2 separate regions of the Homo sapiens genome follow, and region 1 is linked to region 2. The links come from fine-mapping of genetic effects on gene expression. A gene starts in region 2. The other region holds a variant in brackets. All regions are shown on one strand. Distances are between the middles of the regions. Region 1 overlaps NIPSNAP3B (nipsnap homolog 3B). Region 2 holds the start of NIPSNAP3A (nipsnap homolog 3A).

Evidence for each region. PIP is the estimated chance that this variant, and not a neighbour inherited with it, causes the effect.
Region 1: its variant is the best candidate, but not a certain one, in a credible set for the expression of NIPSNAP3A in gastroesophageal junction (GTEx, PIP 0.62).

The regions. Positions count from the first base shown.
Region 1 is chr9:104,765,733-104,771,118 of GRCh38, reverse strand. NIPSNAP3B (nipsnap homolog 3B) reads right to left here. Exons shown (of 6, transcript NM_018376.4): 2 at 4,584-4,794; 3 at 2,098-2,256; 4 at 121-270. Among named protein-coding and RNA genes, the nearest start is that of NIPSNAP3B, 4.3 kb to the right of the region's middle. The variant T/G (reference allele first, on the strand shown) is at 2,991.
Region 2 is chr9:104,744,312-104,749,697 of GRCh38, reverse strand. It overlaps NIPSNAP3A (nipsnap homolog 3A), which reads right to left and starts at 2,015. Exons shown (of 6, transcript NM_015469.3): 1 at 1,846-2,015. The coding sequence starts at 1,905. It overlaps LOC107987105 (a long non-coding RNA gene), which reads left to right and starts at 2,059. Exons shown (of 5, transcript XR_007061705.1): 1 at 2,059-2,249. RefSeq lists an enhancer at 1,452-1,611 and a silencer at 2,032-2,121.

The DNA of each region.
Region 1 (5,386 bases), 21 kb before region 2:
CTATAAACAACAAACTCTAAAAATTTGGAGATAAAAATTAAAACAGGTACCAAAATGAAAAAGAGAGACGAACTGATCTAATACACATGGCAACTTCATAGAACAAATGGACAACTGTACCTCTGTTGAGTTCTCCATATTCTGTGTGGAAAACACCAACTACTTTTGTGTAGCCTAAATTGACATGGGCATTAATTGCTCTTTCAAATGCATCACCCCACAGAGCTGGCCCACCAGGTTTCATCTGAAAAACAGCTAGTTCATAGACTCCTAGAATAGGGAGAAAAATAATTATTTCACAGAAGACATTCAAACAATTTCTAACCAGGTTTTCCTGATTTCATTAGAAGGCTAACCAATGAAGTTAGAGGATAATCCATGTATACATACATATGCAGTCACATTTATTGATTCTCTGCATTATTTTTCTTTGCTTTTATGTTTAGAAAGTCTTTGTCCATGTTTAAGGGTCAGTTGTTAAAATTAATCATAAAGAAAATAAAGAAAAAGGACTGGAAGCTATATATAAACTACACTCTGAAATATTTTTAATCTATAAAATTTGTCAGGAAAACAGATACTGAGAATGTATAATGAAGCAGAATTTTCAAGCTGCCTGTCTACACTTTTTAAAAAAGAAATGCATAAGAGAAGTACTTTCTGATATCCTACATTTCCTTCTCCTTTTCAATTTTGAGAGGAAATAACTTTTTCCTTTGTATAATTTTCTCCGGTAGGATTCTATTTCTAGTTGACCCAAAGTCATGTCTGAGCCTTTAAGGAAAAAAAGAAAACCCTCAAGGAGATGGTTTTATTCTTCCTAAATATCCAGGTAAATGCTTAAAAACCATTCTACCTTCTGGCCAGAAGTATAAGATGGGTGGAGAGAAAGAAACTAGAGGACAAGGTAGATTGGACAAGAAAAAGGAAAGAAATACAAAGTTACTAAAGAATTATGAACAACATAGAGGAAGGGAACTATTAATAAGACTTGACACTGAGAAGTCAACTGTTTTACTTAGTGCTGAAAGTTAAGGGGAGTTTTAAGTACATTAGAATCCAAACAAGACTTTTCAAATCTCTTATAATCTAAAATAAAATACAAAGTTGAGTTTATGGGAGACATAAAATGAAATTTAAATTAGTTTATGCTTTTCGAATCTGACCTCTGTTTAAAATTAGATAGAGGTAATTATTTCCTTTAGTGAGCAAGAAGTGAAATCAGGAAGAAGACAAATCTTTTCAAACTGAGAAACAAGAAAGAGGAAGACACAAAAGTTAAACTACAATAATGTAGCTTAGCAGTGTAAGTTAATTCATTCCCCCAAAACAGTCAGTTTACAAGCAAAGATGTACTTAATGATTTAAGATTAGCTGACTTTGTGGAAAAAATACTTTTATATTTAAAAGTTTATACATTTTAAAACTGTGACAAAATTTCATGAACTACGACTCATCTACCTACACCTGTTTTCCTAGCTCCCAAGCCCCACTTTTTCACCTGTATTGACCATGTCAACTTTTGTTAGGCATCCGTTAGATTTCAATATGGAAAAATACTTCATTTTTTGTTTTAAGGATAAGCAATGTTTAAGGATAAGCTCAATGTTTTAAGGATAAGCAAAGAGCTCTAGAACTCTAATTCTCTTTTTTTTTTTTTTTTTTGAGACGGAGTCTCGCTCTGTCGCCCAGGCTGGAGTGCAGTGGCGAGATCTCGGCTCACTGGAAGCTCCGCCTTCTGGGTTCACGCCATTCCCCTGCCTCAGCCTCCCTAGTAGCTGGGACTACAGGCATGCACCACCACACCCAGCTAATTTTTGTATTTTTGGTAGAGATGGGGCTTCACTACGTTGACCAGGCGGATCTTGAATTCTTGACCTCAAGTGATTCGCCCGCCTCGGCCTTCCAAAGTGCTGAGATTATAGGCGTGAGCCACCGCGCCCAGTCTCTAATTCATTTTTATCTCCAGACTCATCATATATTATTATATAAAACAAAGAATTATATATTTTTTTCCTATAGAACTTTACTCTTTATAACTTTAGGTCTTTAGTATTTTACTCATTAAAACTCATAGTCTAAGAGGGAAGAACTCACCTTCTTTTGGAGGCTTTTCTAATTTGGACCATGGTATCAGGTAAGTAATTTCCGTCTCTTGTTTATCAATGCGAGCCAAATTTGGAATGATAGATTGTTCTTGCCATTCCTTACAGTTGGCTAAGGCTTTCCGAACTTCAGCTCGATGAGCAAAATTATCTATGGGAGGAAAATAGTTAAGAAAATGTTTTTTTATTTAAAATCGCCCATATTTTTACTTGAATTTTACTCAGTTCAGCAAACGTGCAAGGCCATATGGGAACCCCATGTTATTATGTCGCTGGAGATGCCAACATAAATATATGTGACAACTGCTCTCAAGTTACTCATGGTCTAAAAGGGGAGTTGAAATGTAAAAAACTAACTTAATTGACATAGAATGGGCTTTATAGGCTCTAAGACTTTCTTAGGAAGTTGTGTGAATTAGGTTCGTTATTCAATCTTTCTGTGCCTCAGTTTCTTATTCTGTGAAGAAAATAGTATAACATCTACCTCCAGTGTTGTTGTGAGGATTAAATGAATTAGTACATGAAAAGAGCTTAGAATGGTGTTTGGCACCTTAGTTAGTACTCAGTATATGTTAACGATTCTTATCAATGGAAGCATTTGATTTATAGAGAAAGACTATTTTTCCTTGGTGGTGGGTGATTAGGTCAAGGTACACTTTGAATCAAAGTTAACATAAATGAAATTAAGATGCACTTTTTAAGCCTCTTTTTTGAACAACAGCTCCCAATGAAATAGTGCTGATTCTTTTATTTCTTGTCAGTAATTCTTTTTCTCTACAACTTATTTCTCTTCTTTCTAAGTTACCCAAACAGGTATATACATTTACCAAGATATGGGCCTAGTATAGTCAGCCCTCCCTCTCCACAGGTTCTGCATCTGTGGAT[T/G]CAACCAACTGCAGATTAAAAATATTTTTTAAAAATACAAGTGAAATAATATAGTATAACAACTACTTACATAGTATCTATATTGTATTAGGGATTAAAAATAATCTAGAGATGCTTTAAAGTATATGGAAGGATGTGTGTGGGTTTGATGGAAACAGTATGCTGTTTCATATAATGGACTTGAGCTGAATCTGGTATCTACAGGGGTTCCTGGTACCAACCTCCTGCAACCTCCTGCAAATACAGAGGGACAACTATAGTATATTTACTTTTAGGGCCTCCTAAGACTAATAGTAAATGAATTATATGATTTATGCTGAGGATAAGGAATAACACCTATCTTACAAGTGAATTGTAAAGACTTTACGAGCAGTTTAATGGGACACAATTAAACTTGTGGCTCACCTAACGCACATAAGTGGATTATATATGTGGTTTATCTAAAGCATATAAATGAATTATAAACACTTTATTAGCAGTTTTTTCAATGGGACATGTTTCAACTTGTGGTTTATCTAAAGCATAAATTATGTTTTAATAGGGTCTGTTTTATTATAACAGGGAAAAACTAAAGAGTTACGTCAAGCATAGAATGAACACTTTTCATATTAAATTACTTTATGACTATTAACTTTGGACACTGATCACTAAACAGTAAATGAAATTATTAAAAGTTCTTTAGGTATCCTCAAGTCCTGATGTGGACTGTTAAGAACAGACATGGAAGTAACAAACATTCTGGGGATTCTTGTTACTTGTTCTCTTTCCTCTACTAAACCAGGGGTAGGTCAGCTTCAATATGGGAAGGACTGTCTCTCATTCCTTTTCCTTACCTCCCTAGGGTAGTATGAAAGAATTCCTTGAAACTCTGGGGTACAGAAATGAAAAAAGAAGTGGTCTCTAAACATAACAGAATTATTAAATCTCAGAGTTGGGTGACGCTTAAAAGTTAACTATCATCCTTTAAAAACCTCCATTTTTATAAAGCTCCCAAATGGGTGAATTATTTCTGCAAAAATGCTGATATCCAGCCCTAGCTGTAACAATAATAAGAAAAAAAAAATTATCTTATCCTAATGACACTCCTTTACCCAAGAACTGCAATTAGGAGTCTCATAAATTTACAAAGCTTTCTCCCTTATTTAGCCAGTATTCCATCTTCGTCAATACCATATACATTAGTTACACATTTAAAACATTTTTATTAAATATACATGTCTTTTGGCAGGCCCAACGGTGATCTTAACCCACTTGAACATTTACAATTACTGCTTTAAATTTTTCATGAGCTATCTTTATAGCAAACGATTCTAACATTTTTCTGAGGATTAAAGTCTAATTCACAATTTTATGGTTTGATATATGAGACTGCATGTTTTCTCATTTATGATAACATAAGAGTTCAAGCAAGGGGTGGTTAGAGGTGTACCACTGGGAAGAAGATCTGCTAAATTTATTTTTTTGGTATTGCTTTTAAAAAGTCTTACTTAACCTGTATGTATCTATGGTAATATAGATCCAAGAACTAAGTCTTATGTTACATTTAACAGAATGAAAATCTATACTGAATACTAAAACTGGATGACTCTTTACCATACTTCCAAATATGAAACACTTTATTCGTTCTGCCTCCAAATTCTACACTCCAGAATCCAACCAATTCAGAGTAAGAGGTCCGAAGATGAATGTTTTTCTTAAGATTTTCCATGAACGCATTCATATTTGAAGGTTTAAGGTAATAAGTACGAAATTCATAGAACGTTCCATCGTATTGTCTAGGGCCCGTAGCAAAAGATGAACACACCTGAAGGAGGTAAGACAAATGTAAATATCTTGGGAAGGTACAATTACAGATTTGGTTACAACCAAATCTGAGTCTGGTACAAGGAACACACATAGACTCATTATCCATTGTTTACTTTTGTTGTCAATTCTCCATATACACTTGTTTACATAGAGATGTCAATAAAGATAACTACTCTTAATTCTGATGAATATATAGCAACTGTTTCCTAGCAGGGGTCTACCTCTAGCCATTTTTTCACGAGAATTTGCTCACAAGAAGGCTGTGGGATCATAATGATACTCCTTTACCGAAGAACTACATTTAAGACTTAGTCTCTTTAATTTACAAAGGGTTTTCCCCTGTTTAGCCAATATTCCATCTTACTCAATACCATATGTATTAGTTCCACACATTGAAAAAAATTTATTAAGTACACATGCCTTTTGGCAGGCCCAAAAATACGTTTACTAACAAAAAACTCTTGTTTTTAAAAGGTTCCTAAAAAAACAGGAAGGGCTATTCAGGTCAAAGTATTTCCTGAATCTACTGATGAAGACTACCGGTCAAAAACAGGACTGGAATGTAACTAATATAAAAGGAAGCTATAACT
Region 2 (5,386 bases):
TATGTATACACATACACACACACATACGCACACACACATATATATATGCACTCATGGTATACACACAGGCATTCGTGATATTCTTATAAATCCATCTTACTTAAGTTTGAATAGCATGTGCCATTTCCTTAAGTTGATTACACCAGAATAATCTGTGAAGACAGTTTTGATACCTACAAAGCTATGGACAAATTAGGGCTTATACTGACTAGCCAGTATGTCTGTCTGAAAGCAGTAGGCTTTTGCTCCGACATATTTTTGTTTACAAAATACAAAATTATGTAACTGTGTATGATAAGGCTTAATGATAATTATCTAGAGTTAATTCTATTCGTGTGTGACTTATATTCTTATTGCTCAAATGACTAAGCCTACCAACAAAAACAGCTGCAGCTGCCCCTGCCTTTTGTGGACACTCTTTTTGTGCTTTTAAACCAAACTCTAGTAACAATGTTGGTCAAGAAGCAAGTGCCTAGTATCCATAATTTCAAAATTATTATAATAAAATATATCAGGAGATAGGCCAATGGGGCATTTGTGACAAATGGATTTCAGGTTGATTCGAGGAATTTGTATTTGGAGGATAAAATAGTTGATCAAAGGTACACATTTTTACAATTTTGGGCAGTATTAATATACAGTAGGGAACCTACAGTGAGAGAGGGAGAGAGATGTGGACAGGTGGTGCCAGAGAAGGAAGACTGCAGGGGAGCCGGGTATGGTGGGGGAGCCGGATGGGAGTTAAGAATTTTGTTGCAGGGATGACTTTTAGCTGCTAGGGCAGAAATCATGAGTCGTCCATCCTCCCTTATCTCCAAGTTAGGGATCATTCCCACCAGCAACGACCTCCACTTCACTTAAAAGAGAACAACTGATGGACATTTCTAAAAACTTAAAGTTTGGAATCATGCCATAAGGACGTCATTCCTGGCCCTGCCCCACTGGAGAATCATTAGGGTAAAAACTGCATTGTTAACCCGGGGTGAATGGACATGAGCTGCTCTTCTTTAGTGCTCCTCAGTCTGTCTCTAGGACAGGTTAATCCCCTTCCCATCCTGCCCCTTCAGAAAGGAGTAAAGTCCTAAACATCAAAAGGAAAAGAAATTTCTAGGTTGAAGCCACAGAATAGGCCACTCCCGAAAGTTAGGGCAGAATCACAAGCTCCATTTTGTCCATTTCTCATCTAAGGTTAAAAGAGTCTGTCTGTCATCGTCCGGTTTGATAGGAGGCTCCGGTCCCGCCTGGTTGGGGGAGCGACCACACGAAGCGCGGGTGGCGGGCAGGGTCCAGCCCCACCGGGACCCTGGGCCTCCTCTTCAAGGGTCTCCGCGAAATGCTCGGAAGTTGTGTGCTTCATTTAAAAGGGGGAGGCCGGTTCCGTGGCAAGCGGCTGGTTGACAATTCCCTCCTTCAACCTGATGTCTAGAGAGGGCGGTGGCTTGGAAAGCTACGACTCCACCCGCGGCTCCACAGCGCCAGGTGACAACATGGGAGCGCTCGCTGGGCCGCAGCCGCGACATAGCTGGGCAGCAAAAACGAAACAGCCGGCGCCATGGGAGTGTCCCGGTGGGTGTGGCATCCAGGCTAGAAAAGCCTTCTGACCACCACTGCCCGCGAGACGACCCCGGCTGGGGGTATTCCCCTAGCAGCGGCCTCCTCCTCACGCGCGTTCCGGGTACCCCTGTCTTGGGGTTCCGGGGCTCACGCTAGAACCTCACCGGGGCCCCAGGTCTGGGCGCGCGTGGCGGAGAGCGCATGCGCATTGCTCGCACGTACCCGGAACACTCCCCGCCCCGCCCCTCCCCTCCCGTCGGGTGAAGGCTTGGGTACCCCCGTGGCCGGTACCTGAGGCGCCAGCGTCCGTGAGGCCAGCGCCCGAGTCAGGGCGCTTCTGAGGACGAGCATGGCGCGGCTTCGGCGCTGAGAAAAGCAGCCAGCCGTGTCCTTTCTGAGACTCCTCTGAAGGTTTCCCGAGTGGAAAGGAGCGGCTCCTGGATCATTGGCAGACGCAGGCTGGGGCGGGGCTCGGCGGGGTCAGCTCCACCCCGGCGCGGGAGGCGCGGCGGGTCCCGTAGCTTGGTGTCTTTCTCTGCTGTGCTGAGCGTTGGTTCCCCCTTGGTTTCCTGAAACGTTCTTACCCCAAACGTTAGAGGTGACGTTAGGATTAACTGAAGGCTCGGATCGTTCCTGCTTCAACTTTCTGGGCCCTCACTCACCTCATTCGCTCCAGTGCTCAGTTGTGTAGATTGGTAAATGTGCAGGGGTTGTGGGTGTGTTGACCATGGGGAAAGAAGGAGAGGTGTTGAGTGCGTGCATGTGCAGTGCTTTGTATTTAAAATCGTGGAGGTTTTTTCCGAGTTAAGTTTTAGATGTTGTGATAGACGTGTATTTGAGCCTGACCTCTCTGCAATGAATGTGTTCTCCATCTTAGAAGGCTCCTAATTAAGATTTAGATTAAATTTTCCACGAGCTCAGAGAAATGGCAGCATCGAGCCTGAAATGAAAAAGTCAAAGTTAAACATACCCTGGTCTAGTCCTCCCAGTCCGGGAGTGTTGGTTCCCAGAGTAACCACCTTCAACATTTCAAGCTGTTTCATTTAATGCTTGTTTCTGTATTTTTAAGTAAGTAGTGTTTTCTGCTGTTTATTGCATTTTCAGTTATGGATAGTATGTGTTGACTTCCTTCTGTGGCAGATGAGGATTTATGTCTCATAGATGCCACTGCCCCCAAATTCACTTGTCTTCCTGCATCTAATAATGCTTATGTTAATTTACAGTAATTAATTACACTATTAATTTACAGTAATCTATATTAATGTTTACATTATTCTTGCTAATAATTACATTATTGTAAACATTAATGTAATATTGCTTACATCATGAGGACTAGGGAGGGATTGCAGGGCCATGACCTGGGTTGTATTGGTTGTGCCTTGTGGAAGAGCTTTGGAATTGTCTGTTCAAAGGAAGGGAGACTTTTTAAAATTAGTTATTTCGGAAGGGTTGCCTCAGTTTTTCTAGAAGAGAGACATCTATTTGTAACCATGCAAGACTAAAAAAATCATTTGTATCAGGACTGGATCTATATGAGTAAATTATTTTCTTAGACCTTTTTTTTTAAACCCTGTAATTGCCAATCCATTTACTTATTCAACAGATATTTACTAAATTCCTTCCATGTTCCAGGCACTTTTCCAGAAACTGGGGTACAGAATTGAGCAAAATTCAAAGTCCCGTCCTCTTGGAACATCCAGGATGGAGGAAACAGATAAAAAAAGGAAGAGTAAATATATCAGGGATTGTCAAATAATATAAAGAAAAATAAAGTAAGATACGAATAAAGGTGCTAGTGGAATTCTAAAAGTGGTCAGGATTCTAGCTATTGACTTGGATATTTAGGATTTAGGTTTCTTCATACCACTCCCTCAAAATACACTTTCCTTCCTGCGTTTATTGATGTTTACATTAAAAATATATTTTGGAGTGAGAAAAACATGTTAAAAGCACTGTAAGCACAGGTGAATCTCTTCAAATAGTGGGCTTCACTGTGAGGTGATCTGACCTGGGTATTTCACTGAAGGCTGTATCCCCTCCCCCCAAACTGTTATCTGCAAGTTATTTATCTGTGTAGTCAGTGTTAGGGAAGGGAAACTTCCAGTATCTTATCTGTGTGAGAAAAGCCTTGCTGCCAGTTTCCTGAGGCTGAGGAGGGAAGAAGGCCAGAACACTCAGCATTTGGTAGTATCTTTCAATAATATATTAATTAGGGTAGATTAAATAGCTCTTGTAAATCAACACTCAAAAAAGTGTATTATTACTCAAACACTATAGGAGTTTATTTTTTATAAGAATACAAAGTGGGTTTTTCTAGTTGGCAGGTAGCTCTTCTATACTTAGTGAATTAGGGAGCCAGGCTTCTACCCGGTGGCTTTGCCATTCCCTAGTCTCATCATTAACTGCATCCATCCAGCAGAAAGATACAGGGAACTTCCAAGAGGAATTTCCAAGAGGAAAATACAGATAGGGGCAAAATTCATGGCTACAATTGAGAGATGGCTAAACATTGTTAAGTGCTTCTAAGTAGCTAAAATATTCTCCTATTCTCTTTCTCACAGGTTTTAAATATCCTCAAATACTGTGAGTTAAGCTTTATCTCCGTTTTTTAAGTGAGAAAGGTGAAGTCTGAAAAGAGAATTTTCTCAGTTTCATTGCTACGAAGTGGCACAGACTTTGAAGCCCAATTGTAAAACCAGTTCAGTTTACCATTTATTTTTAAAAGATATGTGATTATTAAGGTAATTTTAGATTTGCAGTGGAAAGTAGCTTTTAGACAGAATTTAAAATGTAATATTGTTCTGTGGCTATTTTAAAAAGCATATCCCTAAACTGCCTGGAAAATGTATAGGATAAATATTTTGAAAATTATTGTTGCATATCCTGAAATTCTGACAAATAGTCCAAAGGATAGACAGTTCAAAGCTAGAAAAATCCTATCAAAAAACTAGATTATTAAAATAGGCTCGTATGATATAGAGTAACTGGGTAGTTATTTTGGATTGGATAGACAGAGATGACCTATCTAAGAAGGTAATATCAAACATTTATTATAGGTATGAAAGTGTATATGAGATATCTGTACACTTTAAAGAAGAATAATAAAGTGAATGTCTGTGCTCTTGCCACAAGGCTTAAGCAAAAGGGTATTGCCAGCAACTCAGAAGCTCAATACATGTTCATTCCTGGTCACATTCTTCTTACAACCCTCTCCTCCAATTCCCTCAAGTAACCATGATCCCAAATTTTGTGTTATTACATTGATTTTTCTGAAATAATTCAACTACATTTGTATATAACTCTAAAGAGTATATTGCTTTGGTTTGCCTGTTTTAGATTGTTTATTAACTAATTTTATTATTTTGTTACATAACTGTTAGCTATAACTTTAGGCTTTTGCAAATCAACCACATTAATGCAGTTGTAATAATTAATTCACATCCCTTTAGTATGCTATTCTATTACATGAAAATACCTTGTTTTTTTGTCCATCTGACTATTATAAACAAAGCTGTTTGAATTTATTTGTAGATGTCTCCTGGTTCCGCCAGAAGAATTTCTCTAGGGCAGGTATTACTAACCTTTTTTTGTGTCTTAAAATCCTTTCAAAATCTTGTGAGCCTGTGGATCCCAAATGTTTTTAAATGTATAACAAATACATAGGGTTGCAAAGAAAACAAATACAGTGAAAAAAGTGAACTAGAATAATCAAAATACAAAATCAAATATGAAAAAAATGAACTAGAATAATGAAATATAAAAAACTTTTTAAAAAGAAATAGAGATGCTTCTTTATTAGGGCACTAAAAAACAATATCTAATAGTGGGTGTA